Homo sapiens: one gene and its partners. The protein of the gene in region 4 interacts with the protein of the main gene of each other region in a pairwise test. Each region holds a gene or a part of one and is shown on either strand. Other genes may lie near its edges. The genes, in order: GOPC, PRPF6, VPS52 and MRPL1.

Region 1 (6,763 bases), on a different chromosome or scaffold from region 4:
GGAAGCTGGAGTTGATTGGAGGCTGGAAGGCAATGAGATCACAATGGAGTTAAGACCCAAGGTGAATGAAAGGAGGAAGGAAGGTTGGGTGAAAGCAACTTGGACTACAATGTAATCCTAAGGGAGTTTGGCAAGACCATCGTGGAGTGCTCCAGCTAAAGTTGAGGAGTCATCATATAATATCCCTGTCATAATCAGTCACTGACTGGCAGCAGCATGGAGGAGCATAGCCTCACCATGTACACAGGGATGGATTTCAGACCACAGCAGCTGGACCTTCAGTAAGCTATGCTCCCTCCTGCACGAGAACTGACAGATGCATTCTCATGGCTGCTGCCGTGGTGATTATAGCTCTCAAATCACACCTGAAAAAGGTTCATTATTGAACAAATATTCAGCACCAACAGTGCACGGTAATTTGCAATACTTTTAAAGTGTTTCTTTAAGGTTAGTTATAAAACCACCTAAAATAAAATACTGATTAACAATGAAAATACAAGTTCTCTTTAAAATTTCATAAACTGACCAAAAAAAAATTCATAAATTGACCAATATCCTATGGGGTTGTATTCTGGGGAAAAGACTTCTTTTCAAATCACTTGGTGAATTGGGAGCTTAAATCAACACACGGAAAGCATATATGTATTAGCACTAAATCAAGGTTAGTCAGTGACAAAAATGTATTTCTAATGTTCATAACATTTCTAAATGTTCATAACTCAAGTAATTCATTTACAAGTATTTTCCAAAAATTATTTTACATATAACTTAGGAACTTCTAAATCATATATACTTAGATGTCAAAATGGAAGAATACCCTTTTAAATAGTATCTTAAAAACAGGATTGATTTTCTAACTTTCATCAATGTTTTCCTCATAGATAACAACAGCTGGCAATATTTATAACACAAAATTAAGCCAAGTCCTTTGCACAGACTTTATGACATGTTGGTACAAATAATAGAACTACTAGAAATAAATAACAAGCCAAAATATTTAACGTCAAGGAAACAAAATGTTTATTTAAAAAAATGAGATCAATATCATTTTAATGTAGAAGATGCCATCTTTATTTACAGGCTAATAAAAAAATATTAAACTCAACTAGATATAATACATTATCATAAATGCAATAGATTTGAGGCCAACCATAAGTGTAAGACTGGATAGATGGAATAGGGATTACATAATCAGGATGTCAAATACTGTGCATCTTACACATGAATCACATGAAACCTTTTTGTTTCTAAACATGAAAACAGCATAAGTCCACTGCAGTGGGGAAAAAAACAGCACCACAGACAAGCTGTGCTAACTTTCGATAGCTGTTGACTTGTAATTATCAAGACTCACAAAATTTTCGTCTTTCTCAAATTTATTTTAACAATAGTCTCACCACCAAAATGTTGCTTTTCCATCATATTCATAACAGAGATACTGTAGAAGAGAATTTTAGAGGTTAAGTGTAAATATATACACGCACACATACAACCCTCACATTTTATTAAAACGTTTTCTCAACCATTCTGTTTGTGTATACATGTGTGTATTTCTCCTTCTGTCCCCTTCTCGATGAAATGGCTTTGCAACAGTTCCCTCCTTACTTGTTTGGTTTTGTCCTAGAAGTTTCAGGGACATATGAATTTCTTTCCTATAAATGTGAAAATATTAAAATTGGTTCTCAGTCCTTTGGAACTAATAACTAATTCTTAGTTCATCCCCAAAAACCATACATTCTAAAATGAACTTTTAACTAGTTACTTTCTAACACCGGACAGGAAGCTCACAGTAGCATCTGAGCAACGGTGCTCTCCCGTAGGCTTATAAACCACAGTGAAGCAGGAATGAAAAGGAAACTGACCTGTGGAGTTTTAAACTACCTGGAAACTTTTCATTCTATTTATCAGTCCTTAAAAGGAATTTATATCATGACAATCTCACACAATTCTTCAAATTACACAGTGACCTCATAAAAATTCCAACTTGAAGTTTTAAAAAACCACCTCTTCATACACTTATTCGGTAGTTCTTGAAAATCAAAGGGTTATAGCTTACATTTCCTAAGGATTCAGTCATAGCAGATAAAGGATGTTCTCTGAAAAAAATGCCATGGCCATTCCATCCCAGGCTGTGTTTTAAGAAGATAAGAATAACATGGTTTCATGTCACAGCAAAAAGGTTTTCGGGTCTGCTACAATGGACAATTTTTTTGACTAAATAAATACGGTGGCTAAAATCCAGTTTGCAGATCTCATGTCATGCATGGAAGGTATGTGTTTGGCATAGGGGATTCATAAAGAAAAAACAAGTTGTTTTTTTTCTTTTAAGAGGCCTACCCTGTCAAGAGCAAACAATAACATGTAACTTGCTTATTCATTTGTACAATTAAATACTAGCTTTTGCTCAGAGACAATGCTATAAAGTATTTTAATGTCAGTAACAATATACACTACGAAGTGCACTTCCATTACAAATTAACATGGTGATATACAGATGAACACCACCACCCAAAACAAACCATAAATGAGCAACAGTTAAAACATTAAATTTATAAATAGCAAAACCACAAAATAAAGTATATACATTTTATAGATTTACCCTTGAACAAATATATAGTGTATCTGGGAAAGCCAAAAAAAATGTGTTTTATCACATAACATCTGAATACCAGAAATGAAGATACTGATAATATTCTAAAAGCCTTGTAGGCTTTCTCCCACTTAATATTCCTTTAACTGTACGTCCTTTAAAACAGTGATATTAGCAAAGCTATCACCTCTTTAATGCAATGTTGTGACTTTGCCTAGCAGGTTACAATGACCTGCAGAATATTAAATCAGAGAGGAGGCACTCCATGTTTAATCATGGGACAACAGACCTAACAAATTTATAAACCTGCATATGAAGAGAGCTTTAGTCAAACATAAACTGACATGAAAACCCAACCAAAACAATTACTGTATCAAAATGTCTTTATCTCATCTTGCCCACCTTTTAGATGACTGGAAATCATTTACTTAGAAAGAAAACTGCCGTTTGATTTGAATGTACTGTGTTTCATGACATAGTAATAAATCTGAACTTTTACTACCAGAAAAATTTGTCTTTAAGTGCCAGGACTATCACAAGACAAACTTTATGAACAACTCAAAATGTATAAAACTGTCTTTTGTGGACCCCAGAAAACAAGCATTTGAGGCTCAACATGAATGGGTAAATGCTCCAGTACTGCGCACACAGATCAACATAATTGAGAACAGATGTTTTACACTCATCTGCATTTCTTTTAAAAAACAAAAAAAGTAAAATGTTTAGTAACTTTTGAGAATCTATTTCTAGTGCAGCATTGATTGATAAAAGACTGCTTAAAGAAAACTATTTTGTACTGCATTGAATAAAGCTGAAATGCAAACTCATTACAATAAATGATCATTAATAATTGGTTTAGATTTTAGGATGCACAATAAATTTTTTTAAGTCTAAAGCCTTTCAGTTACAAAAATTAAGTCAAGCCTATATTTCTACAATTCATTGAGTCAAGCTCTGTCTTCTGAAATACCACAGTTAACATTCTAGAATATAAAATATGAATTCACTTACTCTCTGTATTTTAAAGGGTACTCCTTATAAAATTCCAGTTAGCACTGTCCTCCTACTAAAGGGAAAAGGAACCAAGTAAAACAGTAGGGTTTCATTTGGTACTTAAGAGCCCAGTAATACCCCTTTGGGAAACACATGCTTTGGTGCTTACAAGTTCAAGAAAATCAAAATTGCTTTACATGCAATAGCTAATTATGGTCTACCACAGAAAACAGGGTGTTTTATGCATTGAGAATTGTTCACATGAAGCCCTGAGGTACCCGCCTTTCATTTAGGCAACAAACAGCCTCCCCTGATTTTGTAGTCTTTGTCACCATCTTCCCCAGTGCCCCAAATTCAGAATAGTCTGATTAACAATCTTGTCTGGAGATATGGTCAATTTAATAAGATTTTTTATGATACAGAGTGTGCAGATCATCTAATTTTGAAGCACCGTCATCTAGCGGAGTTTCACTTGCAGTGCCCAGGTCTCCATTTTCATGTGTGTCAGTTACTGCCTTCTTATTAAATCCTGAAAGAAAGGAGAAAAAAAAAGCAGACACTTTCTGGTTTAAAAAGTTGGTTTTGGTCAGGTGCAGTGGCTCATACCTGTAATCCCAGCACTTTGAGAGGCCAAGGTGGGTGGATAACCTGAGGTTAGGGGTTCGAGACCAGCCTGGACAATGTGGTGAAACCCCGTCTCTATTAAAAATACAAAAATTCGCCGGGCATGGTGGCACATGCCTGTAATCCCAGCTATTTGGGAGACTGAGGAAGGAGAATCACTTGAAGCCAGGAAGTGGAGGTTGCAGTGAGCTGAGATCGTACCACCGCACTCTAGCCTGGGTGACAGAGTGAAACTCTGTCTCGATTAAAAAAATTAAAAAAAAAAAAAAAGTTAGTTGTATAAGTTTATTGAGTGAAAAACAAAGGAATGCCCAAGTAATTAACATTAGTAATCTGAGGCAAAAATAATGCCTTATATTAATCAAATCAGTAATTCCTAACAGGGGAATTCTTCCCTCTTATGGCAGGTATCAAATATTGTACAGATTTAAAAATACTATATTGGGCTTATGTAAAAATTGTATTAAGTTTCCTATCAAGTTTTCCTTTCCTTTTTTTTTTTTCTTTTTTTTTTCTGAGACAGGGTCTCACTCTATTGCCCAGGCTGGATTGCAGTGGCATGATTACGGCTCACTGCTGCCTTGACCTCCTAGGCTCAAGCAATCCTTCCACCTCAGCCTCCTGAGTAGCTGGAGCTACAAGCATGTGCCACCATGTCCAGCTATATTTTAAAAATTTTTTTGAAGAGACAGGGTTCACTATGTTGCCCAGGTTGGTAACTCCTGGCCTCAAGCGATCCTCCTGCCTTGGCCTCCCAAAGTGCTTGAATTACAGGCATGAGCCACCATCAAGCTGTCTGTAAGACTTAGAAGTAATACATATAATTGTAAAATTCAGTCAATTCTACTTATATAAATATCTACTGAACTGTGAATTATATTTTTATTTTTCATTGTTGCTTTCATATTACATTAACTTCAGTTAACTGAGGCATATACTAGTTAATTGCTTAAAATGTAATTTGTTGGCAAGATGATGTCTAGCTAAAACTTAAAACGAATTCTGATCATCTATAAAATAAATAATAGGCTTATAAATAAATAAGTGTTGACTATATCACCTATTTAGGTGATATATATATCTATAAAGTATAGACGTGTGAAACAATAACCAATAGATACATTTTTTTAAGTGAGTCAGTTAAAAGATATATACACACAAATTTTTAGTTGAGTCACATTTTAAGTGTCTGCAATTTGCATATGTGACAGAGAAGACTTCTAGCCTCAGTTACAAAAAAAAGGAAGAGACAGGCTTTCTAATCCCGACAGAAAACAGCAAGTGTGAAATACAATGAAACCATATGGAGAGCAGCCCAACAATTAAGGTTTTGACATACTGCCACAATAGTTTTGCTCAAGATGCACAGTGAAAACAGTAACTGCTACTGCTATCTTTGTGCAGACAGTTTACAACACACAAGTTTATCAAAAGTGCAACAGTTTATCAGTTCACCATAAAACTCCATGCCAGGAGTTCAACATTTTGGTCTCAGGAGGCCTTTATACTAAGCATTGAGGACTCCAAGAAGCTTCTGTTTATGTGGATTATAGCTACTGATGTTTCCCATATTAGTAGGTAAAATTGAAAAATCTAAAAAAAAATTCATTTCTTTGTTAAAAATGACAATAAATCCAGAAGGTTAATATAAATAACATTTGTCTAATGACAAATAACTCTATGTTCCAAACAAAAAAATTCTAGTTAGAAGAGTAGCATTATTTTACAATTTTACAAATCTCTTCAATGGCTTTGTAGATGATAGCTGTATTTTCATATATCTGCTTCCATTCAATCTATTACAAGTATATGAAGAAAGTTCAGCCTCACACAGATATGTAGTTGCTAAATGGAAGAGTATTTTAACAGCCTTTTCAGATAACTGTCAGTATTGTTCTCTGATATTATACAAAAATTTGACAATGTGGAATTTGAAACCTTATCAGTGAACTTTTCACACTCTGTTATATTAAAATCCATTTGCCTATCTTGCATTTTGAATGGATCTTTTCCCATGCAAAATTTTATAACTTCATTTACTGGTGATTTGAAAAATATTGGACCATGAAGTTATGTAGCAATTCCAAAAGTTGACACATTTCACTTTACTGTATCAAAAAATCACATTCATTAATATCATCATCAATCTCATCAGAAAAGCTTAAGTGTTAGGAAGCTGTCAAGCTCATGGTGATCAACGTATGTTTTACAAAGTTCTAACTTTCACTTGAGAGCTCACATTTTATCACTGGCAATAAATATTATCAGTTGTCTTTCCTGAAGTGATGGACTTTGTTCATTTTTAAGAAAATGGCTTCCAAATAGTCCGAAAATCCATACTTTGTTAGTCATTCATTCAAGTAAAAATTGTCTTCCATGAAGAAAAATGGCTAGTTCAGTCACTTATGTACTTTCCCTTGAAACCAGCATCTTTGTTCAGTGTGCAGAGTAAGTGCTTTATGCATACTTCCCATCTCATCACAAAGAATATTAAAAAGACAGGTACTCAAAGGTCAATATTTAAAAATTAACTGTTACTGCCATTTCATCAAAGAT
Region 2 (7,892 bases), on a different chromosome or scaffold from region 4:
ACCTTATCATGAAGGGGACGGAGATGTGCCCCAAGGTGAGGTATTTCCTGGGAGGCGTTTCCTGGGAGGCTGCGTGATTGTGGCCCCTACGGGAGTAAACTTGTTAGAGCAAATCTCTTTGTCTTTTGGTATTGAAACTACAGACAATAGGGCAGGCTGGGGGAGGATGTGAAAAGCAGCCAAGGGCTTTTTCCTGCTTGTTTTCATGTGGAGTGAAGGCTAATCCACCACTTTTTTTTTTTTTGGAGACGGAGTCTCGCTCTGTCACCCAGGCTGGAGTGCAGTGGCACGATCTCGGCTCACCGCAAGCTCCACCTGCCAGGTTCACACCATTGTCCTGTCTCAGCCTCCAGAGTAGCTGGCACTATAGGCGCCCGCCACCATGCCTGAATCCACCACGCCTGAATCCACCACTGGTTTGACGGCAGGCTAAGCTTCATTATAAAGAGCTCAGTTGGTCAGCTCTTCACCCGCCTAATGGTGGCCAGTCACGGTGGCTCACGCCTGTAATCCCAGCACTTTGGGAGGCTGAGGCGGGTGGATCACTTGAGGTCAGGAGTTAGAAACCAGCCTGGCCAACATGGCGAAACCCCGTCTCTACTAAAAATATGAAAGTTAGCCAGGCGTCGTGACAGGTGCCCATAATCCCAGCTATTCGGTAGGTGGAGGTTGCAGTGAGCTGAGATTGCACCATGCTGCTCCAGCCTGGGCGACAGAGCGAGATTCCGTCTCAAAAAAAAAAAAAAAAACAACAAAAAAGAACGACCCGAGCAGATGTGCAGTCTCTGCTTTGTCCATGGAGTTGTCCTGAAGGAAATCATGCTCTTTTCACAAAGTGGTGTTTCATTTTTTTTTTTTCTTTTTTTTTGAGTCTCGCTCTGTTGCCCAGGCTGAAGTACAGTGGCGTGATCTCAGCTCACTGCAACCTCTGCCTCCCGGGTTCAAGCAATTCTCCTGCCTCAGCCTCCTGAGTACCTGGGATTATAGGCACCTGCCACCACACCCGGCTAATTTTTGTAGTTTTAGTAGAGACAGGGTTTTGCCATGTTGGCCAGGCTGGTCTCAAACTCCTGACCTCATGATCCACCTGCCTCGGCCTCCCAAAGGGCTGGGATTACAGGCGTGAGCCACCGCGCCCGGCCATTAGGTGTTCTTCAGTCAGACATATGGTAGCCATGTTCCCAAGTGTGGTTATAAGGGGGCGACTCCTGGTGCAGGTGTGTTAGAGGCTGAGCTAATTGGCTTTCGTAAATTCTGGGGCCCGAGGATCTGCTCTGGAGATCTGTGCCTGCTGCCCTGTTGCGGCTTCCAGCCTGCACTGAGCCTTATTGGTCTTATCTCTTGCCTCACAGAGTGAAGATGTCTGGCTGGAAGCAGCCAGGTTGCAGCCTGGGGACACAGCCAAGGCCGTGGTAGCCCAAGCTGTCCGTCATCTCCCACAGTCTGTCAGGATTTACATCAGAGCCGCAGAGCTGGAAACGGACATTCGTGCAAAGAAGCGGGTTCTTCGGAAAGGTGAGCCTCCCTCGGAGGTGCTGCTTTCTCCCTCCTTGGGGCCCCTCCTCTCAGCAGCTTTCCTGCTCCTGGCTCAGGCTTTTGGTGAGAGTGGATAAGGAACCAGGGACATTTTTCAGGCCTTTTCTCAGGCTGGGTTGCCTCTGCCCTTGGACCCCCATGGGGGAGGGATACTGTGGTGGGCAAGTTCCCATCCTGGAAGGGATGCTTGGGTTGAGCCCTCACTCCTGCCTTTTTCCAGTGTGTGATCTTGGATGCTTGGGCGGTCACTCTGGTCCAGGCTTCCCTCATCTGCAGGGTGAGAACAACGGTAGCTCAAAGCCTGTGTCCTGGGGCTCTGGAGATGGTCTGTGTGAAGAGCTGAGCCGGCACCTGGCACGTGCAGACCCGTTGTGGGTGTTACTCATTTTCTCTCCTGAGAAGGCACCAGAGCCACACGTTGATTGAACTCTTTCCTGCTGCTGACGAGGCTGTGCCTTCTGCTCCCGCGATGCAGCGTGTGCCGTCAGCTCAGGTCAGATAACGACAGACGGTGTGCCTACCAGGCAACCTGATTCCATCCAGGGATTCCTGCCAGGGTAGAGCTTTTGTGGGTAGTTTGTTTATTTTTATTACTGTGGATTCATAAAAGGAGCACTGTTTCTCCTGTCACTGGAAGTGTGTAGTAGATGCTGCTCTTGAACTGGGTCCAGAACGAGTGCTAGTCAGGGGGCTGTTCTGAAGCTAATCTGTGCAGGTGGCTTCTTTTTTTTCATTTTTTGTTTTTTTTTTCTGGTTTTTTTTTTTTTTTTTTTTTTGAGATGGAGTCTCGCCCTGTCGCCCAGGCTGGAGTGCAGTGGCGTGATCTCGGCTCACTGCAAGCTCCGCCTCCCGGGTTCACACCATTCTCCTGCCTCAGCCTCCTGAGTAGCTGGGACTACAGGCGCCTGCCACCACGCCTGGCTAATTTCTTTTTGTATTTTTAGTAGAGATGGGGTTTCACTGTGTTATCCAGGATGGTCTCGATCTCTTGGCCTTGTGATCTGCCTGCCTCGGCCTCCCAAAGTGCTGGGATTCCAGGCGTGAGCCACTGCACCTGGCCTATGCAGGTGGCTTCTATCCATTTTTTTTTTTTTAGACAGAGTCTCGCTTTGTCGCCCAGGCTGGAGTACAGGGGCACGATCTTGGCTCACTGCAGCCTCTGCCTCCCGGGTTCAAGTGATTCTCCTGCCTCAGCCTCCCGAGTAGCCGGGATTACAGGTGTGCGCCTCCATGCCTGGCCAATTTTTGTATTTTTAGTAGAGATGGGGTTTCCCCATGTTGGCCGGGCTGGTCTCAAACTCCTGACCACAAGTGATCCTCCTGCCTTGGCCTCCCAAAGTGCAGGGATTACAGGCGTGAGCCCCTGTGCCTGGCCTTTTCTTTTCTTTTTTTTTTTTTTTTGAGATGGAGTCTCACTTTGTCCCCCAGGCTGGAGTGCAATGGCACCATCTTGGCTCACTGCAACCTCCGCCTCCTGGGTTTAAGCAATCCTCTTGCCTCAGCCTTCTGAGGAGCTGGGACTACAGGCACCTGCCACCACGCCTGCTTAATTTTTGTATTTTTAGTAGAGACGGGGTTTCACTGTGTTGACCAGGCTGGTCTTGAACTTCTCACCTCAAGTGATCCACCCACCTCGACCTCCCAAAGTGCTGGGATTACAGGCGTGAGCCACTGTGCCCGGCCAGATTTTTTTTTTTTTTTTGAGACAGCGTCTTGCTCTGTCACCCAGGCTGGAGTGCAGTGGCACGATCTTGGCTCACTGCAGCCACCACCTCCCAGGCTCAGGCGATCCTCCCAGCTTAGCCTCCCAAGTAGCTGGGAGTATAGGTCCCACCCCCATGCCCAGCTATTTTTAATTTTTGGTAGAGATGGGATCTTGCTGTGTTGTCCAAGCTTGTCTCAAACTCCCATCCTCAAGTGATCCTCCTGCCTTGATCTCCCAGAGAGCTGGGATTACAGGCATCAGCCGTCGCATCCAGCCTATTCTTCCTGAATTTATAGCCTAGGAAAAATAAAGTGTATTTTATGGAATCAAGGGCAGTTTTCAGTGAGAGCTTTCCAGCTCTTGTTTTTCCAAATGTCTTTAAGCGAAATATCCCATTGAGGCTTCTGTGCTGATAGGACCGTGCAGATGAGGGCTCTTTGGTAGAAAGCCCCTTATCAAATATAGTTTCATTCACTTACTGTCTACGTCTGTTAGAAGACAGGTGAAGGCTGCTTGCCTGTGATGCATGTTCCCCCGACCCTGTGCACTCACATGTGAACGTGCTTTCCTCTGTCGAGGCTGGTTTCTTGACCGCAGCCCAGCTGCTCAGTGAATGCTCAGAGACAGCCTCTTTTATTTTTTTTTATTGAGACAGAGTCTCGCTCTGTCGCCCAGCCTGGAGTGCAGTGGCACGACCTCGGCTCTCTGCAAGCTCCGCCTCCCAGGTTCACGCCATTCTCCTGCCTCAGCCCCCCAAGTAGCTGGGACTACAGGCGCCCGCCACCAGGCCTGGCTAATTTTTTTTTGTATTTTTATTAGAGATGGGGTTTCACCATGTTAGCCAGGATGGTCTTGATCTCCTGACCTCATGATCCACCCGCCTCGGCCTCTCAAAGTGCTGGGATTACAGGCGTGAGCCACCGCGCCCGGCCAGAGACAGCGTCTTATAATGAGGTGGCCAGGAACAGAAAGTTAGCACCTGTCTGGGTTTGTAGAAATCAGTTTATCTTTTTTCAGCTAGGAAGAAATAGTTCTTTGATGAAGAGCCCATGAAAGTCTGGGTAATTAGTATTGTTTACTTAGAAAAGCTCTATTGAATTCTTCCTGCCACAGTTTGATGAATGATCATGAATGTCTTTGTGGCCACTCCCTGCTCACCACCAGATTGTCTGGGTTCATTTCCAGTTGGTTTGGATTTGGAGATGGGAGTATGCTGTTGGAGGCGGGGGCCTTCGGGGAGTGTTGAGGGACTGTGTTTCCACGGCTGTTCTCTCAGGGAGTGGCCTCCTGGCTGTGCTCTCTCAGGCAGAGAAGCTGGGCTAAGGTGGAATGAACCCAGGATCTCCAGGATGGCCTTTGCCGCTGCCCTAATACTGGTCCTGGCCTGCCCTTTCCCAAGAGTGTTTCCAAAAACTGTATTCTTTTCCTGGGGTGAAGCCCAGCACTGCTTCATTTGGTTATTAGCAAACACTTACACGTTGCTTGAAGGGTCTGGTTTTTGAAATTAAGATGACAGCTACTTCCACTGGTGACTTAGGACACCTGCCAGCCAGGGAGCCTGGCAGTGCATGGTCTCTGTGAGCTCTGGGTCGCTGTTGGGCTGAGCTGACACCTTAGTCCTTTGTTGGGAGAATGGGCGTTTTGGGTGCTGATCTTGAGACCTGAGGAGGCTGAGTAACCTTAGGCATGGTGCTTGGCCTCTGAGCTTCCATGTCTTCCTCTGTAAAAGGGAAGAGGGCTTTCAGGATTGGGGAGGGTGCAGCATGTGAGCTTCCTGGCCAGGGTGGGGTGTCCCACGTGCAGAGTCCCCTGGGGAGGCCCGACTGGCAGCTCCCCTACAATAATGCACTCACATGCTGTGTACTCCGCTAGTTAATGCAGATGTGTGGAAGTGGAGTTATTTTACACTAACGCCATATGCTCTGGCCTGTGAAGCGTGGCATCCTTCAGTGGCCGTCGCCAGCGTGTCCCTCTGGGGGCACAGGAATGGCACAGTTCAGGTTGAGGGTCTTCCCTGCAGTCACGTGACCCCCGGAGAGCATGTTGGCCTCTGCACGGTCACGTCTTCATGGCTGTGTCTAGCATTCAGAATACTCTTCTGTTCTAGGCCAACTTCAGGGGTGTGTGCTTCCTCCACTTCTGCTCATAAAGTCACACTCCTTGAAGGCCATTGTATCATGGTGTGCCATGTGGCTTCCGAAAGCACCTGGGGAAGGTGACCTTGTTGGTTTTAGTGCCATGCCTGTGGGCTGCTGATGAGATGCCATGGAGATATGTCAGCTCTCTCCCAAAACTTGAAGACACAGAGTCCTGGGAGTCGTAAGTTAATGACTCCATAAATTGAGTCCCGCATGAATATTCTGTTCTTTAGAGACGCGAAGTTCATCTCCACCAATGTACAAAGTATTAAGGGAAGTAGTTCATATTTAGACAAATAGAGCACTCATCTCCCACGCAGTCGAGGTGAGAGCGCACAGGAAAAACAACTGGGTCGTTCTGTGTCTTCTCTCTATGCCTAGTCGCCTGGTTGGAGGTTAGGACTTTCCTTCTTTACTGCTGTGCCCTCTGCTGTCACCCTGCTTGGTCAGGGTTCTTGACCTGGATGAGTAACCCAAATCTTTTTTTTGTTTTAGACAGAGCCTCGTCCTATTGCCCAGGCTGGAGAGCAGTGTTGCAATCAGCTCACTGCAGCCTCAACCTCCTGGGCTGTAGTGATCCTCCTGCTTCTGGCTCTTGAGTAGCTGGGACCATAGGTACATACTACCATGCCTAAATAATTTTTATTTTGAGACAGGATCTTGCTCTGTTGCCTAGGCTGGAGTGCAGTGGCATGATCATGGGTCACTGAAGCCTCAACCTCCCAGACTCAAACTATCCTCCAGTCTCAGCTTCCTGAATAGCTGGGACTCCAGGGACATACCACCATGCCTGGCTGAGTTTTTAATTTTTCAAAGAGACGAGGTCTCCCTGTGTCATCCAGGCTGGTTTTAAACTCCTGGGCTCAAGTGATCCTCCCACCTCAGTCTCCCAAAATGCTGGGACTGCAGATGGGGGCCACTGTGCTCAGCCAGGACCCATATCTTTATCCCCAAAGGGTCTGACTTGTTGGTAGTTTTGCTTTTTTGGTGGCTGTAGTTCCCATTAACTTTTACTGGTAAAAGCAGAAATACTAAACTGTTTTTAGGACTGGCCTCTAGATAGTCTCCCACAGTGGGTGGCAGCAACTCAGTCTCGCTTTGGGAGTCAGGGTTAGCCTCTCCAGCCAGGGCTGGTACATGAGGAGGCCAGAGGGAGCTGTGGTCTGCACCCTGGTTGGCACATACTCCCTTTGGAGTAGCTCGTAGCTTGCTCTTTTTTTTTTTTTTTTTTGAGACTGAGTCTTGCTCTGTTGCCCAGGCTAGAGTGCAGTGGCGCAATCTCGGCTCACTGCAACCTCCGCCTCCTGGGTTCAAGGAATTCTCTTGCCTCAGCCTCCCAAGTAGATGGGATTACAGGCACCTGCCACCACACCCGACTAATTTTTGTATTTTTAATAGAGATGGGGTTTGGTTTCACTGTGTTGGCCAGGCTGGTCTCGAACTCCTGACCTCATGATCCACCCGCTTCAGCTTCCCAAAGTGCTGGGATTACAAATGTGAGCCACCACACCCGGCCTTTGGACCAGCTCTCTTGACAGGAGGGTCCAAGGAGGCGGAGACGGGACTCTTGGCAGTGGAGACGGGACTTGTGGCAGCGGAGATGGGACTTGAGCCATTCAGACATCACTGTTTATTCCTAGACCCGTGTGTTCTGGCTGTGAGATCCAGCCGGGATTGGTGTCTATTCACAGCATTTGTGGCATCCTACTGGGCTGCCAGGCCATGGCTCTGAGTGATGGGCACATGGTAAGACCATGTTCTGCCTGAATCGGTGAATTCATATAGCTTCGTCTTCTGGCCGTCTTTCAGTTGGTCAAGTGGACATCCAGATAATAAGGCCAGGGGTGTCAGTGCCAGTGTGCTGTGCAGAACCATGCGTAAACCACAGCAGACTTTTGTCTTCTCAGTCCCTTGACCCTAAGGGACTCCCCAGAGGTTGTCAGTGTGGGCTGAGGGAGGAAAGCGGTTGAGCAGCCACCAGTGCAGGAGGCATCTGCCCCATAGCTTAGGCAGCTGTGCTGCACCTGCCTTCCTTCCACACCATCTCCTGGGTGCCATTTCCACCCTATGAGGCCACTGCTGCATCTGCCCAACCTTGTGGCTTGGTCTGTCAGTAACACCTGGAGTGGGCAGCAGGTTGCTCAGTCATTTTATGTCCCTTAGCTGAGTGTTCATTCCCTGCCAGGGCCTCACAGCCAGCCTGGGGCTGTTTCTCAGCAGGAGAGCAGGTACCTGCAGGAGAGCTAGCTCACTTGCCCTCTCCCCTCCCCGCCTCCCCTCCCCTCTGCCTCCCGTCCCCTCTTCCCCTCCCCGCCTCCGCTTCCCTCCCCGCCTCCCCTCCCCTGCCCTGCCCTTTTCCTCTTTTTTTTTTTTTTGAGACTGAGTCTCCCTCTTTTGCCTAGGCTGGAGCTGGAGTTCAGTGGTGCAGTTTTGGCTCACTGCAACCTCCACCTCCTGGGCTCAAGCGATTCTCCCACCTCTGCCTCCCAGCTAGCTGGAACCACAAGTACATG
Region 3 (7,261 bases), on a different chromosome or scaffold from region 4:
CTGAGATCCGGACACTGCAGGAACAGTCAGGAGCCATGAACATTCGACTTCGAAATCGCCAGGCAGTTCGGGGGAAACTTGGGGAGCTTGTTGATGGTCTGGTGGTGCCTTCTGCTCTGGTCACGTGAGTTACCAGTTTGAAGGGTTATAATGTCCATAGCAGGTGGATGGGCTGGGGTGACCCACCCTATTTACCATATGGGTCTCCTGGCTCCAGGTTAAGTGCTTTTTAGAAATTAGTAGCCAGGTTAACCACCATTTCTTTAGGTATGCATTAGGCATCAAAGATTAAGATTAAGAATGATGTAAGATCAGGTGTATAGTGGGGAGGTCCAGGAATAGAAAACTTTGTACATGTGTCCTGACTATATGGTACAATGCAAGGTGGTAGAGATGACAGGGGCTGGAGGTAAGGAGTGTGGTCTGGGTCTGGTTTAGGGATGTCTGGGTCTCCCTTGTAACTCATCCCACCCCTCCCTGCTAACCAGGGCAATTCTGGAGGCTCCAGTGACAGAGCCCAGGTTCTTGGAGCAGCTACAGGAGCTGGATGCCAAGGCAGCCGCAGTCAGAGAGCAGGAAGCTAGAGGCACAGCAGCCTGCGCAGATGTCAGAGGCGTGCTCGATCGGCTCCGGGTCAAGGTGGGAAGTAGGGATGGATACCCTGGAGGCTACTGGAAGCAGCCTTCCCAAGATCTTCACTATGGATTTCCTTGGCAGAGCTCACTGTAGCCTGTCTCCAGGGACTTCACCCTGCCTTTTCTGGGCAGCCCCATTCTTGTCTCTCTGGGTTTCCCTGAAAATCTTGAGAAATACCAAAGAGATATTCACCACCCTTCTGCCTATGTTTACCATTTGTTGCTTCCCCCAGTTCCTCTCATACAGCAAAAGGGTTGCAGCTTCATGCCCTGTGTTTGGTTCCCCACATCTAGGCAGTGACGAAGATCCGAGAGTTTATCCTCCAGAAGATTTATTCCTTCAGGAAACCCATGACCAACTATCAGATCCCCCAGACGGCCCTGCTGAAGTACAGGTCACAACCCCAAGGAAGTGCATGGGATGGCCTTTGAGTTTTTGAGCGGCCTAGTGTGGGCATCTGGTTTCTTGGGAGACAGGTAGACTGACATGTTCCTGACCCCCTAGGTTCTTCTATCAGTTTCTGCTGGGCAATGAACGAGCAACAGCAAAGGAGATCAGGGATGAATATGTGGAGACGCTGAGCAAGATTTACCTGTCTTACTACCGCTCTTACCTGGGGCGGCTCATGAAGGTGCAGGTAAGGTCAGGAGGGAGAGGTATTCCTGGGCACATGGACTGGGAGGAGGGGACATCCCTGGGCAAGGAATATTTTATTGTGTTGTGGGAAGAGACGGTTATCAGTTCTCTTTTCTCTTTCCTTAGTATGAGGAAGTCGCTGAGAAAGATGATCTAATGGGTGTGGAAGATACAGCAAAGAAAGATATCCTAGTACTGGGGAACCCTCATGCCAGGCCTTGAGAGTGGGAGGACTTTCGACTCCAGCCACCAATGCACTGCTCCTTACCTTTTCCTATGGGACTGAAACCTTTTAGAATGTGATGAAAGCTATAGCCTCCCTCCCCAGAAAGATGCACACATTATTTTGACACATAGTTTTGCATATGATTGCAAGGGAGGGAGAGACACCCTGAAGCCCATTCACAGATGTCAGCACGTGGGGCCCTAGTACTGGGAAAGAGGGCTGGCTAGGCCACGTCTGCCTGTCTGGGGTCCCCACAGATAGTGAGTCTTTGGGCCCAGTTATGGTCTCATTGTTTTCCCTGACTCTGACCCATCTTACGATTCTTCTCAAAGCCATCGCTCCGCAGCAGGAACACCATTTTCACCCTAGGAACCCGCGGCTCTGTCATCTCCCCCACTGAACTTGAGGCCCCCATCCTGGTGCCTCACACAGCGCAGCGCGGAGAGCAGAGGGTATGAGGAGGAACAAGCTTCAGTCACGAAAGAGGCTCTGAGCACGGTGGGGAGGGAAGGCCAGACCTCAGGGCAGAGCTTCCCAACCTGCAGGCCCTGTCTTAATCCCCTTAGACTTGGGAGTGGCCTTCTCCAATCACTCCAGCCTGCTGTGATGTGAAAAGAGCTGGGAACCATTGACTTAAGGGCATGCAGAGGGGAGAGACTGGATGAGGGGAATGACAGTCAGAGGCAGGTGTTGAGGTGGATGCAGGAGTAGCAACAGCAGGTGGGTGTAGGCCCTTTTTGTACCCCTATGTTCCCCCACCTTTTCAGTGCCCATTCAGCTTGCTCTTAGACAGCCCGGACCTAGATAGATGCGAAGGGTCTGCCTAGCTCTTATTACTCAGGTTTACTGATTTTCCAGCCATATCCATGGGAAGTCAGTGTTGGGGTCCATCCCTTCTGTTTTTCTTCTTTACTCCTCCTCTCCCAGTATCCATTTGAGGCCCTCTTCCGCAGCCAGCACTACGCCCTCCTAGACAATTCCTGCCGCGAATACCTTTTCATCTGTGAATTTTTTGTTGTGTCTGGCCCAGCTGCACACGACCTGTTCCATGCTGTCATGGGCCGTACACTCAGCATGACCCTGGTAAGACTCCTGTTTCCTGTACCATTCAACACCTTTGTCCCCAGTCTTCATCAGCAGCATAGTGGGGTCATGACTCTGGTAGAACTGAAATCAGGATCGCCTCATTCTAAAATGTCTAAGCCTTGGCTGGGCGTGGTAGTGCACACCCATAATCCCAGCACTTTGGGAGTCCAAGGCAGTAGGATTGCCTGAGCTCAGGAGTTTGAGACCAGCCTGGGCAACAACCTCATCTCTACAAAAAATGAAAAATTAGCCGGGTGTGTGTTGATGTGTGCCTGTGGTCACAGCTACTAAAGATGCTGAGGTGGAAGGATTGCTTGAGCCCAGGAGGTCAAGGCTGCAGTGAGCCATGCACTCCAGAGTGAGACCTGTCTCAAAAAAAAAAAAAAAAAAAAATAGCCAGGTGCAGTGGCTTACGCCTGTAATCCCAGCACTTTGGGAGGCTGAGGCGGGAGGATCACAAGGTCAGGAGTTTGAGACCAGCCTGACCAACATGATGAAACCCTGTCTCTACTAACAGTACAAAAATTAGCCAGGTGTGCGCGGCCTGTAATCCCAGCTACTCGGGAGGCTGAGGCAGGAGGATTGCTTGAACCTGGGAGGAGGAGATTGCAGTGAGCCAAGATTGCGCCATTGCACTCCAGCCTGGGTGACAGAGCGAGACTCCATCTCAAAAAAAAAACTTGTTACTTAGACTTGTCACAGTGTTACTCCCCCATGAAATCCTCAGTGCGTAGGGTCCCTGAGACTACCCCTACTGCTGACCCACAATCAGGCAATAGCACGTGAAAACTGAGGGTCCCCCAAATCTTGGTGCTCAAACCCCTGACCCAAGCTCAGCCCTGAACTCTGCTGTGATAGGCTTGTGATCATAGATCCTGGTGTGGCCAGGTGCAGTGGCTTATGCCTGCAATCCCAGTACTTTGGGAGACCAAGGCAGGAAGGTTGCTTGAGGCCAGGAGTTCGAGACCAGCCTGGGCAATGCGGCAAGACCTTGTCTCTACAAAAAATTTAAAAATAAACTTAACCAGGCATGGTGGTACACACCCATGGTCCCAGTTGCTTGGCAGGCTGAGGTGGGAACATCACTTGAGCCCAGATGTTTGAGGCTGCAGTGAACTATGATTGTACCATTACAATCCAGCCTAGGTGACAAAACAACCTGTCTCTAAAGCCGAAAACACCGGGTGCAGTGGCTCACACCTGTAATCCCAGCACTTTAGGAGGCTGAGGTGGGCGGATCGCCTGAGGTCAGGAGTTCGAGACCAGCTTGACCAACATGATGAAACCCCATCTCTACTAAAATACAAAAATTAGTCGGGCGTGGTGGCAGGCGCCTATAATTCCAGCTACTCAGGAGGCTGAGGCAGGAGAATTGCTTGAACCTGGGAGGCAGGCGGAGGTTGCAGTGAGCCGAGATTGTGCCACTGCATTCCAGCTTGGGTGGCAAGAGTGAAACTCTATCTCAAAAAACAAAAAAAAAGCCAAAAACATAGATCCTGGACAGGAAAGCAGGGGGCAGTTCCATTTTACGTCTCTCCCTTCTGTCCTGTCCAGTGCATCATCCCCAAAGAAACAAATGCGTTTGTTCATAGTCACTGAGGACAACAAACTGACATTCTCTTTTAATCCTCTGTTTGTTCCCCAATCACACAGAAACACCTGGATTCTTATCTAGCTGACTGCTACGATGCCATTGCTGTTTTTCTCTGTATCCACATTGTTCTCCGGTTCCGTAACATTGCAGCAAAGAGGGATGTTCCTGCCCTGGACAGGTCACTGAATTCTGGTCCTTGATGCCCAACAGGCCACGAACTCTCTTGGTCTTGCATGACTCTGCCCTGACCTTAGACTCCTACTGACCTGGTATCATCAACCTTTATTCCCATTCATTTGCTCCGGAGGCAGTAGTGCTGCTTTTTGACTCACCTTTCTCCAACCACTGCCCCCCAACCCCCACAACTAGCTATTGACCATTAAACTGAATGATGCCCCACTCCCTCCCATCCCCCTCCAACATTCCTTGCTGGCTGACCTCTGATTCTGATTAAGCCCACAGGTACTGGGAACAGGTGCTTGCCTTGCTATGGCCACGGTTTGAACTGATCCTGGAGATGAATGTTCAGAGCGTCCGAAGCACTGACCCCCAGCGCCTAGGGGGGTTGGATACTCGGCCCCACTATGTGAGGGAGGGCAAGGGTAACAAAGGGTTCTTGAAAGGCAGGGCTCTAAGCATCATTGTGGGGGTTGGCCAAGGTCACAGTTGTGTCATGGGCCACGCTATGAGCAGGTGTTCTGGGAGGGTGGTGAAACTCATGGTGAGTGGTGCACTGTGGGTAGGAGGGACTGAAGGTAGAGTCACATCACATGGAGGTGGGTTGGCTAAGGAAGTTGGGAGGTTGTGTTGGTTGGGCCAGGAGGTGGGTGTGATTTTCCTTCCCACTCTCTCCTAGATCACACGCCGCTATGCAGAGTTCTCCTCCGCTCTTGTCAGTATCAACCAGACAATTCCTAATGAACGGACCATGCAATTGCTGGGACAGCTGCAGGTGAGGGTCGGACAGGAGACACTTCCCAGCAGCAGGGCTGCTTCCAGTGGGTGGAGTCTGAGGAGGAGCCAGATGGGGCCCAGATGACCTTGCTTTCTGGTGTCACCTCTTCCTCTCTGCCTTTTCAGGTGGAGGTGGAGAATTTTGTCCTCCGAGTGGCAGCTGAGTTCTCCTCAAGGAAGGAGCAGCTTGTGTTTCTGATCAACAACTATGACATGATGCTGGGTGTGCTGATGGTAATAGGTGCTCCTTCTCCTTGCCTTCCTACCCAGAAAATTCGGTTTCCCCCACTGCTGTTAGCTCTGTGAGGGCAGAGATGATGCCTGTCTTGTTCAGTGTTTTACTCTTGGAGTCTGGCACAGTGTCCAGCTTAGTACAATAAGTGTGGAATGAAGGGGACATCCTGAAGTGAAGGACTGCTTTCCCCAAACTAGACATTTCCCTTTGTCTTCCCTTAGGAGCGGGCTGCAGATGACAGCAAAGAGGTTGAGAGCTTCCAGCAGCTGCTCAATGCTCGGACACAGGTAGGGGTGTGGGGAAAAGGGAAGAGACAGCCTTCTGTGCTGTTTTCAGCTCTCTCTCTCTCTCTCTCTGTGTGTGTGTGTGTGTGTGTGTGTGTGTGTAGGGAGTGGCATAATGGATCTCAGGTATGCGGAATTACTGTAACTCTTGATTCACAACATACTGTCATTATTGGTCTATTTTATTTTATTTTGTCTTTGGTTTTTTTTTTTTTTTTTTTTTGAGGCAAAGTGTCACTCTGTCACCCAGGCTGGAGTGCAGTGGCATGAACATGGCTCACTGCAGCCTCAACAGCCTGGGCTTAAGTGATCCTTCTACCTTAGCCCCCTGGGTAGCTGGGACCACAGGTGCGAGCCACCATGCCTAGCTAATTTTTTATTTTTAGAATGAATTTTATTTTTTTCTTTATCTATCCTCTCAAGCATTTATCCTTTGTGTTATAAACAATCCGATTACACTAAGTTATTTTAAAATGTACAATTAAGTTATAATTGACTATAGTCACCCTGTTGTGCTGTCAAATAGTAGGTCTTATTTATTCTTCCTATTTTTGTTTGTACCCATTAATCATCCCCACCTTCTCCCCAGCCTTCCACTAGCCTTCCCAGCCTCTGGTAGCCATCCTTCTACTCTCTTCGTACATGAGTACATGAGTTCAATTGTTTTGATTTTTAGATTCCACGAATCAGTGAGAACACATGACGTTTGTCTTTCTGTGCCTGGCTTATTTCACTTAATATAATAATTTCCAATTCTATGCATGTTGTTGCAAATGACTGAGTCTCATTCTTTTTTATGGCTGAGTAGTACTCCATTGTGTATATATCCCACATTTTCTTTACCCATTCATCTGTTGATGGACACTTAGGTTGCTTCCAAATCTTAGCTATTGTGAACAATACTGCAACAAACATGGGAGTGCAAATATCTCTTCAATGTACTGATTTCCTTTCTTTTGGGTATATACCCAGCAGTGGGATTGCTGAATCATATGGTAGCTCTACTTTTAGTTTTTTGAGCAACCTTCAAACTGTTCTCCAAAGTGTTTGTACTAATCTACATTCCCACCAACAGTGTATAAGGGTTCCCTTTTCTCCACATCCTTGCCAGCATTGCTATTGCCTGTCTTTTGGATAAAAGCCATTCTGACTGGAGTGAGATGAGATCTCATTGTAGTTTTGATTTGTATTTCTCTGATAATAGTGATGGTGAGCCCCTTTTCATATATGTCTGTTTGCCATTTGTATTCTTTTGAAAAATATCTATTCAAATCTTTTGCCCATTTTTTAATAGGATTATTAGACTGTCATGTAGAGTTGTTTGAGCCCCTTATATATTCTGGTTATTAATCCCTTGGCAGATGGGATGTGCAAATATTCTTTGTCTCTTCACTTTATTGTTTCTTTAGCTGTGCAGAAGCTTTTTTTTTTTTTTTTTTTTTTTTTGAGATGGAGTTTTGTTCTTGTTGTCCAGGCTGGAGTGCGATGGTGCGATCTCAGCTCACCGCAACCTCCGCCTCCCAGGTTCAAGCAATTTTCCTGCCTCAGCCTCCTGAGTAGCTGTGATTACAGGCATGTGCCACCATGCCTGGCTAATTTTGTATTTTTAG
Region 4 (7,892 bases):
TTTTTTTTTTTTTTTGAGACAGGGTCTCACTCTGTCACCTACCTGGAGTGCACTGACATAATCAGCTCACTGCAGTCTCAGACTCCTGAGCTCAGGTGATCCTTCCAAATCAGCCTCCTAAGTAGCTGGGACCACAGGTGTGTACCACTATGCCCAGCTAATTTTTTTGATTTGGTAGAGGCAGGGTCTTGCTATATTGCCCAGGCTGGTCTTGAACTCCTGGCCTCAAACAGTCCTCCTGCCTTGGCCTCCCAAAGTGCTGGAATTGCAGGCGTGAGCCCTCGTGCTTGGCCCAGTATTTAGCTTGACAAGTATTCTCTAATCTGCCATCTTTTCCAGTCTTATTACTGTTGCTACTCTGGTTCAGGTTCTCATATCTCTGAGAAGAAAGGGCGGGAACAGACTCTTAATTGTTTTCAATCCTACTTCCTTCAGGTCTCTCTCTTATATTGCAGCCAGAATACCTTGCCTAAAATACAGATGTTACTCCTGTTTACTGACTTCTTATTGCCTCTAGAGGATGCCCCCCTATGCTCTGTCTTTTCTAACCTCATCTTCCACTCTTGCCTGCCTTCTCTTTTACCGTTTTAGTTCAGAAGTCAGCAAACTTTGGCGAGTCAGCCAATCTTGTTTACCGACTATATTTGCACTACAGTGGCAGCGTTGAGTCATTGCAGCAGAGAACATATGGCTCACAAAGCTAAAACATTTACTATCTGGTCCTTTACAGAAAAAGTTTGCCAACTCTGCTCTAGTCATGTAGAACTTATAATAGCTTCCTTCTTATACCATTTTATTTTGTGCCTCAGTACTTTTTATTACGTTGTTTCTTTACCTGGCTAACTCTATTATTTTTTAAATAATGGCTTTATTAAGGTATCATATAATTACATATCACACAATTCACCCATTTAAAGTGTACAGTTCATTGGTTGTTAGTATACTCACAGTTGTGCAGCCATCACTGTAATCAGTTTTAGAGCATTTTCATTGCTTTCCCAGAGAACCCCATGCCCATGAGCATTCACTTCTTGTTCCCCTAACCTCCTCTTCTAGCACTAGACAACCACCAGATCTACTTTTTAGTCTCTTAGGTTTGCTCATTCTTGATATTTGGTATAAATGGAATAATATGTGGGCTTTTGTGACTGGCTTCTTTCACTTAGCTTAATGTTTTTAGGGTTCATGCGTGTTGTAGCATTGATCAATATTTCATTCTTTTATTAATTGTTGATTAATATTCCATTATATGGACATACCACATTTTATGTATCCATTCATCAGTTGATAGACATTTGGGTTGTTTCTACTTTTTGGCTGTTATGAATAATGCTGCTAAGAACATTTGTGTACTAGATTTTGTGTCATATGTTTTCACTTCTTTGGGGTGCTAACACTTCCTTATCCATTAAGAATTGACTTTGAGGTCATTTCCTCTATAACTTTTCCCTAGCCTCCTAGGCTGGATTGAATGTCTTTTCTGTCAGGCTCTGATGATGCTCTTGTATTACTACATTATATTGAAATGACCTGTTAGTATGTCTTTCTGATCTACTCCTCTGTAAGTTTCTGGAGAGCAGCATCAGTGCGGTAATTCAACTTATTCATGACTTCAGACATTGGAAAAGTTCACTTCATGTTTGTTGAATTAGAAAAACTGTAAAGCAGTCTATGCTTTTGAATTAAAATATAATTCATCCTTTGTTTTTTTTTCTCTTATGTACACTGGCTTTTTTTTTAAAAAAAATCTCTTAGGATATATATTGATATAACTCAACTTTATTTTCTTTTAAGGTCTGCAAAGAAAACAAAAAAAGGTGCTAAAGAAAAAACACCAGATGAGAAAAAAGATGAAATAGAAAAAATAAAAGCATATCCCTATATGGAAGGCGAACCTGAGGATGATGTCTATTTAAAACGCTTATACCCGAGACAGATATATGAGGTGGAGAAAGCTGTTCACTTACTTAAGAAATTTCAAATTCTTGACTTTACTAGTCCAAAGCAAAGTGTTTATCTTGATTTGACACTGGATATGGCACTGGGAAAGAAGGTATGTAGAGTCCATTAAAATAAGTTTACCTGTGAACAGTGGCTGTATGAATTGGTGTTTCTTTATTTTATTTTATTGTTATTATTATTTTTGAGACAGGGTCTTCTTGCCGTGTTGCCCAGGCTGGAGTGCGGTGGTATGATCTCAGCTCACTGCAGACTCCACCTCCCGGGCTCAGGTGATCCTGCCACCTCAGCTTCCTGAGTAGCTGGGACTACAGGTGTGTTCTACCACGCCCAGCTAATTTTTGTACTTTTAGTACAGATGAGGTTTCCCCATTTTGCCCAGGCTGGTTTTGAACTCTGGGGCTCAAGCACTCTGCGCTCCTTGGCCTCCCAAAGTGCTGGGATTACATGCATGAGCCACTGTGCCTGGCCTCTTAATTTTAAAAATTATTGCCTCTCATAATTTTTAGAAAACTTCATGCTCTTTCTGTACTTTAGCATGAAAAATATGTTTGTTCATTTAAAAATTTTCCAAATATAAAATTTGTTGAAAACACTCTAGAGAGTTAACATAGATTTCCTATTTCCTCTAAGAGAGTCACTAGTATAAATTTCAACAAAAGTAGTGTTAAAATTAACGGAGGTATCACTGTAACTTTGAAAAGTGATTTAAACTGCCTAGGTGGCATGTTTCTTCTCTGTAAATGAGGGCTCTGGATTAGCTCAGTGTCCTTCAGATGTGTTCCTTGGGGTCGCACCACTGCACTCCAGCCTGGGCGACAGAGCAAGACTCCATCTCAAAAAAAAAAAAAAAAGAGAATTTGTCTCTCCTTGTCTATAAAGAAATCCCGAGGAGGATGTTTCTACTCAAAATAAGGTTTTTCTAAAAATATTGATCCTTCAATCAGTTTTATTAGGGGAACAACCACCTTTTCTTCCAAACCTTAAGGCTGCAACAAAACTTTGGAGGGCCTAGAACTTGTTTCTCTGTAAAATCTCCCTGAGAGATCTAGGCCTCAGGCCTCAATAGTTCCTGGTCAAAATGACTAGACAGATTAGTTTAGTGGTCCTGTAAAATCTCCACCTGTATTAGCGTGCCTCAAATGCATGCCATTGTTTATTTAGGATTTTCCAATTGACTTTCTAAATAAATCTGAAAGTGATGATGGTCTAGGTTGTTTCAAAAATAGAGTCACTCAGAAGATCCCTTTAGGCTCGACATTTTGTCTTGGGTTTAGGGTTTACAATTCCTGATAGTTTAGAGCCAATGATGGCAATTGGGGGTGACCTACTGGGCAGATCAGCTGGATATTGTCTATTGTTCAGCATGTACAGCTGTAGTCATGTCTCCCTGATGGTGTCAGAAGATTACATGGGTTTAAAACAAATTTAATTGAAGATAGCAAACATTTATTATACATCAGATGGAAAGCATTGTACTAGTGCTGGGGAAGATGTTGATATGCAAACACATTTCATAATATTTGAGAGACTGTGATGAATGATGTAGAGATAGAAGCCAAGTGGCATGGGATTATGAAGCTGGAAAAAGAGATTTTAGTTTTTTATTCTCAAAAAAATATAATCTTGAAAAAGTTTCTTGAAAAAAAAATAATCTGTTGTGCTTTAAATTGTAATCGATGAATAGTAATTCATGAATAGTAATCAATGAATAGTTCTGAATTAATGGAAGAACATAGAGTAGAATCAGAACACTGAAAACAAAACATGTCCGTTCTTGTTTTATATAGAGTGTGTGAAATAGAAAAGATTAACTTTACGTAATTATTTTTCCTTGTCATGTGTTTAGAAAAACGTGGAGCCATTTACCAGTGTTCTTAGTTTGCCATACCCATTTGCTTCCGAAATCAATAAAGTTGCTGTATTTACAGAGGTGAGTAACTTCCGTCAACTATTTATATCATTTAATTTTTTTTTTTGAGACGGAGTCTCACTCTGTCACCAGTCTGGAGTGCAGTGGGGCAACCTCGGCTCACTGCAACCTCCGCCTCCCAGGTTCAAGCGATTCTCCTGCCTCAGCCTCCCAAGTAGCTGGGACTACAGGTGTGCACCACCACGCCCAGCTAATTTTTGTATTTTTAGTAGAGACAGGTTTTCACCATGTTGGCCGGGGTAGTCTTGATCTCTTGACCTTGTGATCCGCCCGCCTCGGCCTCCCAAAGTGCTGGGATTACAGGTGTGAGCCACCATGTCCAGCCTCATCATTTAATTTTTTTTAGAGATCACAAATTAATCATTAATTATTAACCAATCATTAGCACCCTGAATAAATGGAGTTAGAGAAAATCCTAGCATTCACCTAGTCTTATTTTCCCCATTTGGAGCTCAAAACATTTAGATGATTTATTTGAGGTTATATTATTAGCTTGAGAAAGAGCTAAATTAGAACATTAGTTTCATCATTACTAGAATGCTACATTGTGTTTCTCACAAGAAACTGAAAAGTGGAATTTATCAATTTATCCTATTAACTGCTGCTTTCTGTTCAAACTTCTCTCCCCAGACAACAAGATTATTTTAAAGCAATGGAACCATTTAGTACTGTGGTGCCTTAGAAACCACAACTTTCAAAAGTATCTAGTCTTTATAAAACTGTCCTAAATAAATGTTTGTTTATAATGTGTTTATGATTTTTTTTTAATCATCCACAAACTATAATGGTTCTGAATGTAATATCCCTGATGCATTTAATTGAAAATTCATGCATTCAGTTCTTTTTTGAGACAGGGTCTTGGTCTGTTGTCCAGGCTGGAGTACAGTGGTGCAGTCATACTCACTATAGCCTCGGACTCCTGGGCTGAAGCGATTCTCCTGCCTCAGCCTACTGAGTAGCTGGAACTGCGGGTGCTAGCCACTATATGGCAGGCTAATTTTTTTTTTTCTTTGAGATGGAGTCTTGCTCTTGTTGCCCAGGCTGGAATGCAATGGCGTGATCTTGGCTTACCGCAACCTCTGCCTCCTGGGTTCAAGTGATTCTCTTGCCTCAGCCTCCCGAGTAGCTGCGATTACAGGCATGCACCACCACACCTGGCTAATTTTGTATTTTTAGTAGAGACGGGGTTTCTCCACGTTGGTCAGGCTGGTCTCGAGCTCCTGACCTTAGGTGACTGCCTGCCTTGGCCTCTCAAAGTGCTGAGATTACAGGCGTGAGCCACCATACCCAGCCTGGCAGGCTAATTTTTAATATTTTTTTGTAGAGATCGGGGATCTCACTTTGTTGCCCAGGCTGGTCTAGAACTCCTGGCTTCAAGTGATCCTCTTGACTCAGCCTGCCAAAATGTTGGGATTACAGGTGTGGCTCACTGCACCTGGTTTGCATTTTCTTTTTTTTTTTTTTTTTTTTTGAGATGGAGTCTCACTCTGCCACCCAGGCTGGAGTGCAGTGGTGTGATCTCAGCTTACTGCATCCTCCCCCTCCTGGGTTCAAGGATTCTTCTGCCTCAGCCTCCTGAGTAGCTGGGACTTACAGGTGTGTGCCACCACGTCCGGCCAATTTTTATATTTTTAGTAGAGACAGTTTTGCCATGTTGGCCAGGCTAGTCTTGAACTCCTGACCTCGGGAACTATCCGCCTCAGCCTCCCAAACTTCTGGGATTACCAGTGAGAGCCACTGCATCCAGCCACATTTTCAATTAAAAATAAAAGCTACAATTTGTACTTTGAACTGTGATATTATTTCTGACAACATACTTCAAAGCAGACTGAATATATTTAAAATTAATGATTGATTTTCAAATTATTGTGTTTTGGTAGAATGCATCAGAGGTCAAAATAGCGGAAGAAAATGGAGCTGCATTTGCAGGAGGCACTAGTCTGATACAGAAGGTACAGTGTTGTTTTCATGTTCATTAAGTATAGAGATGATTCTGTTATCTTTACCATTCATTGATCTGTTATATGTGGAACACTAGTCTCATATCTTATGATAAATAGTTAATAGGTCTTTATAAGAGCAGGAAAAAAATTTCCAACTTTCTTCAGTTTCAAAATCAAGCTAGGAGAAAACTATCCAGACAGTCTGATTTTGTGTGTTTGTGTTTATTTGGGGTGTGTGTGTGTGTGTGTTTGTCTGTGTTTGAGACAAGGTCTCTCTCTGTTGTCCAGACTAGAAGATGGTGGTGCAATTATGGCTCACTGCAGCCTTGAACTCCTGAGCTCAAGCAATCCTCCTGCCTCAGCCTTCTGAGTAGCTGGGACTAAAGGTGCATGCCACTGCACTCGGCTAATTTTTTTGTAGAGATAGGGTTCTTGTTTGTTGCCCAGGCTGGTCTTGAACTCTTGGCATCAAGCAATCCTCCTGCCTTGGCCTCCCAAAGTACTGGGGTTACAGGTGTGAGCCACCACACCCAACCTCAGACAGTCTGATATTGATTATACTTGAATTATTATTGTGATTATTATTATTATTACTATTTTTCGCTTCTTTTTTGTCTGAGAGTTTTGTGGATAGATAGGAAAGGGCAGTGTGACTCTGGTTTTGAATGTAAGGTTTAAAATGAAATCCACAAGGTCGCATGGATTTCATTGATACCCATGGACACCTCTATTCATGTTTTGAAGATCAAATATTTGTTTTTTTTCTTGGAGTGAAGGTGTAATTCACTTAGTAGATTATAAAGTATGGTATCTGCCCTCTATAATGTTGGTGCTTTTGGTTCCTCTTAACTTTTAGCTTCTAATCCTTTCAGAATGGCATAGACTCAGTATGGTAGCAACAAGTGATTATGTAGCCTGCCTTTAGAAGGTAACAGAGCTTCGCTGGACGCAGTGGCTCATGCCTGTAATCTCAGCACTTTGGGAGGCTGAGGTGGGCAGATCACTTGAGGCCAGGAGTTTGGGACCAGCCTGGCCAACACGGTGAATCCCCACCTCTACTAAAAATACAAAAATTAGCCAGGCGTGGTGGCACATGCCTGTAATCCTAGCTACTTGGGAGGCTGAGGCACAAGAATCTCTTGAACCCAGGAGGCGGAGTTTGCAGTGAGCCGAGATTGCGCCTACACTCCAGCCTAGGCAACAGAGCGAGACTCTGTCTCCAAAAAAATAAATAAATAAAATAAATAAACAAACAAATAAATAAGAAAATAACAGAGCTTGGAGAGCCTCTTTGAAAATGAGAACTTTTTTTTTCCTTTTTAGGAAGTAGGAAGAAGAGGCATGGAGTTATTTCTGAAAATATAAAAGATTTTTCTTAGGGTTCTCTCTAAAAGTTCCTCCTCTAGATAAAATCCTTTATTATAAAGTTATGGAATTTTTTTTATTATACTTTAAGTTCTAGGGTAGATGTGCACAGCATGCAGGTTTGTTACGTATGTATATATGTACCATGTTGGTGTGCTGCACCCATTAACTCGTCATTTACATTAGGTATATCTCCTAATGCTATCCCTCCCCCGTCCCCTACTCCAAGACAGGGCCCGGTGTGTGATGTTCCCCACCCTGTCAATTCAACAAGAAGAGCTAACTATCCTAAATATATATGCACCCAATACAGGGGCACCCAGATTCATAAAGCAAGTCCTTAGAGACCTAGAAAGAGACTTAGACTCCCACACAATAATAATGAGAGACTTTAACACCACACTGTCAACATTAGACACATCAACGAGACAGAAAGTTAACAAGGATATCCAGGAATTGAACTCAGCTCTGCACCAAGCAGACCTAATAGACATCTACAGAACTCTCCACCCCAAATCAACAGAATATGCGTTCTTCTCAGCACCACATTGCACTTATTCCAAAATTGACCACATAGTTGGAAGTAAAGCACTCCTCAGCAAATGTAAAAGAACAGAAATTATAACAAACTGTCTCTCAGACCACAGTGCAGTGAGACTAGAACTCAGGATTAAGACACTCACTCAAAACCG

Evidence for each region.
Region 1: the proteins of MRPL1 (region 4) and GOPC interact in binary tests that used the Homo sapiens proteins (3 or more experiments, as listed by UniProt).
Region 2: the proteins of MRPL1 (region 4) and PRPF6 interact in a two-hybrid assay, tested with the Homo sapiens proteins (one large-scale study listed by BioGRID).
Region 3: the proteins of MRPL1 (region 4) and VPS52 interact in binary tests that used the Homo sapiens proteins (3 or more experiments, as listed by UniProt).

Annotation. Positions count from the first base shown.
Region 1 is NC_000006.12:117,559,273-117,566,035, forward strand, and holds the end of GOPC (Golgi-associated PDZ and coiled-coil motif-containing protein), read right to left. Parts: intron 4,113-6,763; coding exon 3,982-4,112; 3' UTR 997-3,981; downstream 1-996.
Region 2 is NC_000020.11:63,999,725-64,007,616, forward strand, and holds part of PRPF6 (pre-mRNA-processing factor 6), read left to right. Parts: coding exon 1-35; intron 36-1,352; coding exon 1,353-1,515; intron 1,516-7,892. UniProt on the Homo sapiens protein: Involved in pre-mRNA splicing as component of the U4/U6-U5 tri-snRNP complex, one of the building blocks of the spliceosome.
Region 3 is NC_000006.12:33,261,877-33,269,137, reverse strand, and holds part of VPS52 (vacuolar protein sorting-associated protein 52 homolog), read left to right. Parts: coding exon 1-124; intron 125-488; coding exon 489-639; intron 640-929; coding exon 930-1,030; intron 1,031-1,140; coding exon 1,141-1,273; intron 1,274-1,398; coding exon 1,399-1,456; intron 1,457-1,816; coding exon 1,817-1,950; intron 1,951-2,064; coding exon of another isoform or gene 2,065-2,130; exon of another isoform or gene 2,131-2,406; intron 2,407-2,425; coding exon 2,426-2,581; intron 2,582-4,237; coding exon 4,238-4,356; intron 4,357-4,640; coding exon 4,641-4,764; intron 4,765-5,034; coding exon 5,035-5,130; intron 5,131-5,258; coding exon 5,259-5,366; intron 5,367-5,588; coding exon 5,589-5,654; intron 5,655-7,261. UniProt on the Homo sapiens protein: Acts as a component of the GARP complex that is involved in retrograde transport from early and late endosomes to the trans-Golgi network (TGN).
Region 4 is NC_000004.12:77,881,448-77,889,339, forward strand, and holds part of MRPL1 (large ribosomal subunit protein uL1m precursor), read left to right. Parts: intron 1-1,794; coding exon 1,795-2,053; intron 2,054-3,808; coding exon 3,809-3,892; intron 3,893-5,772; coding exon 5,773-5,844; intron 5,845-7,892.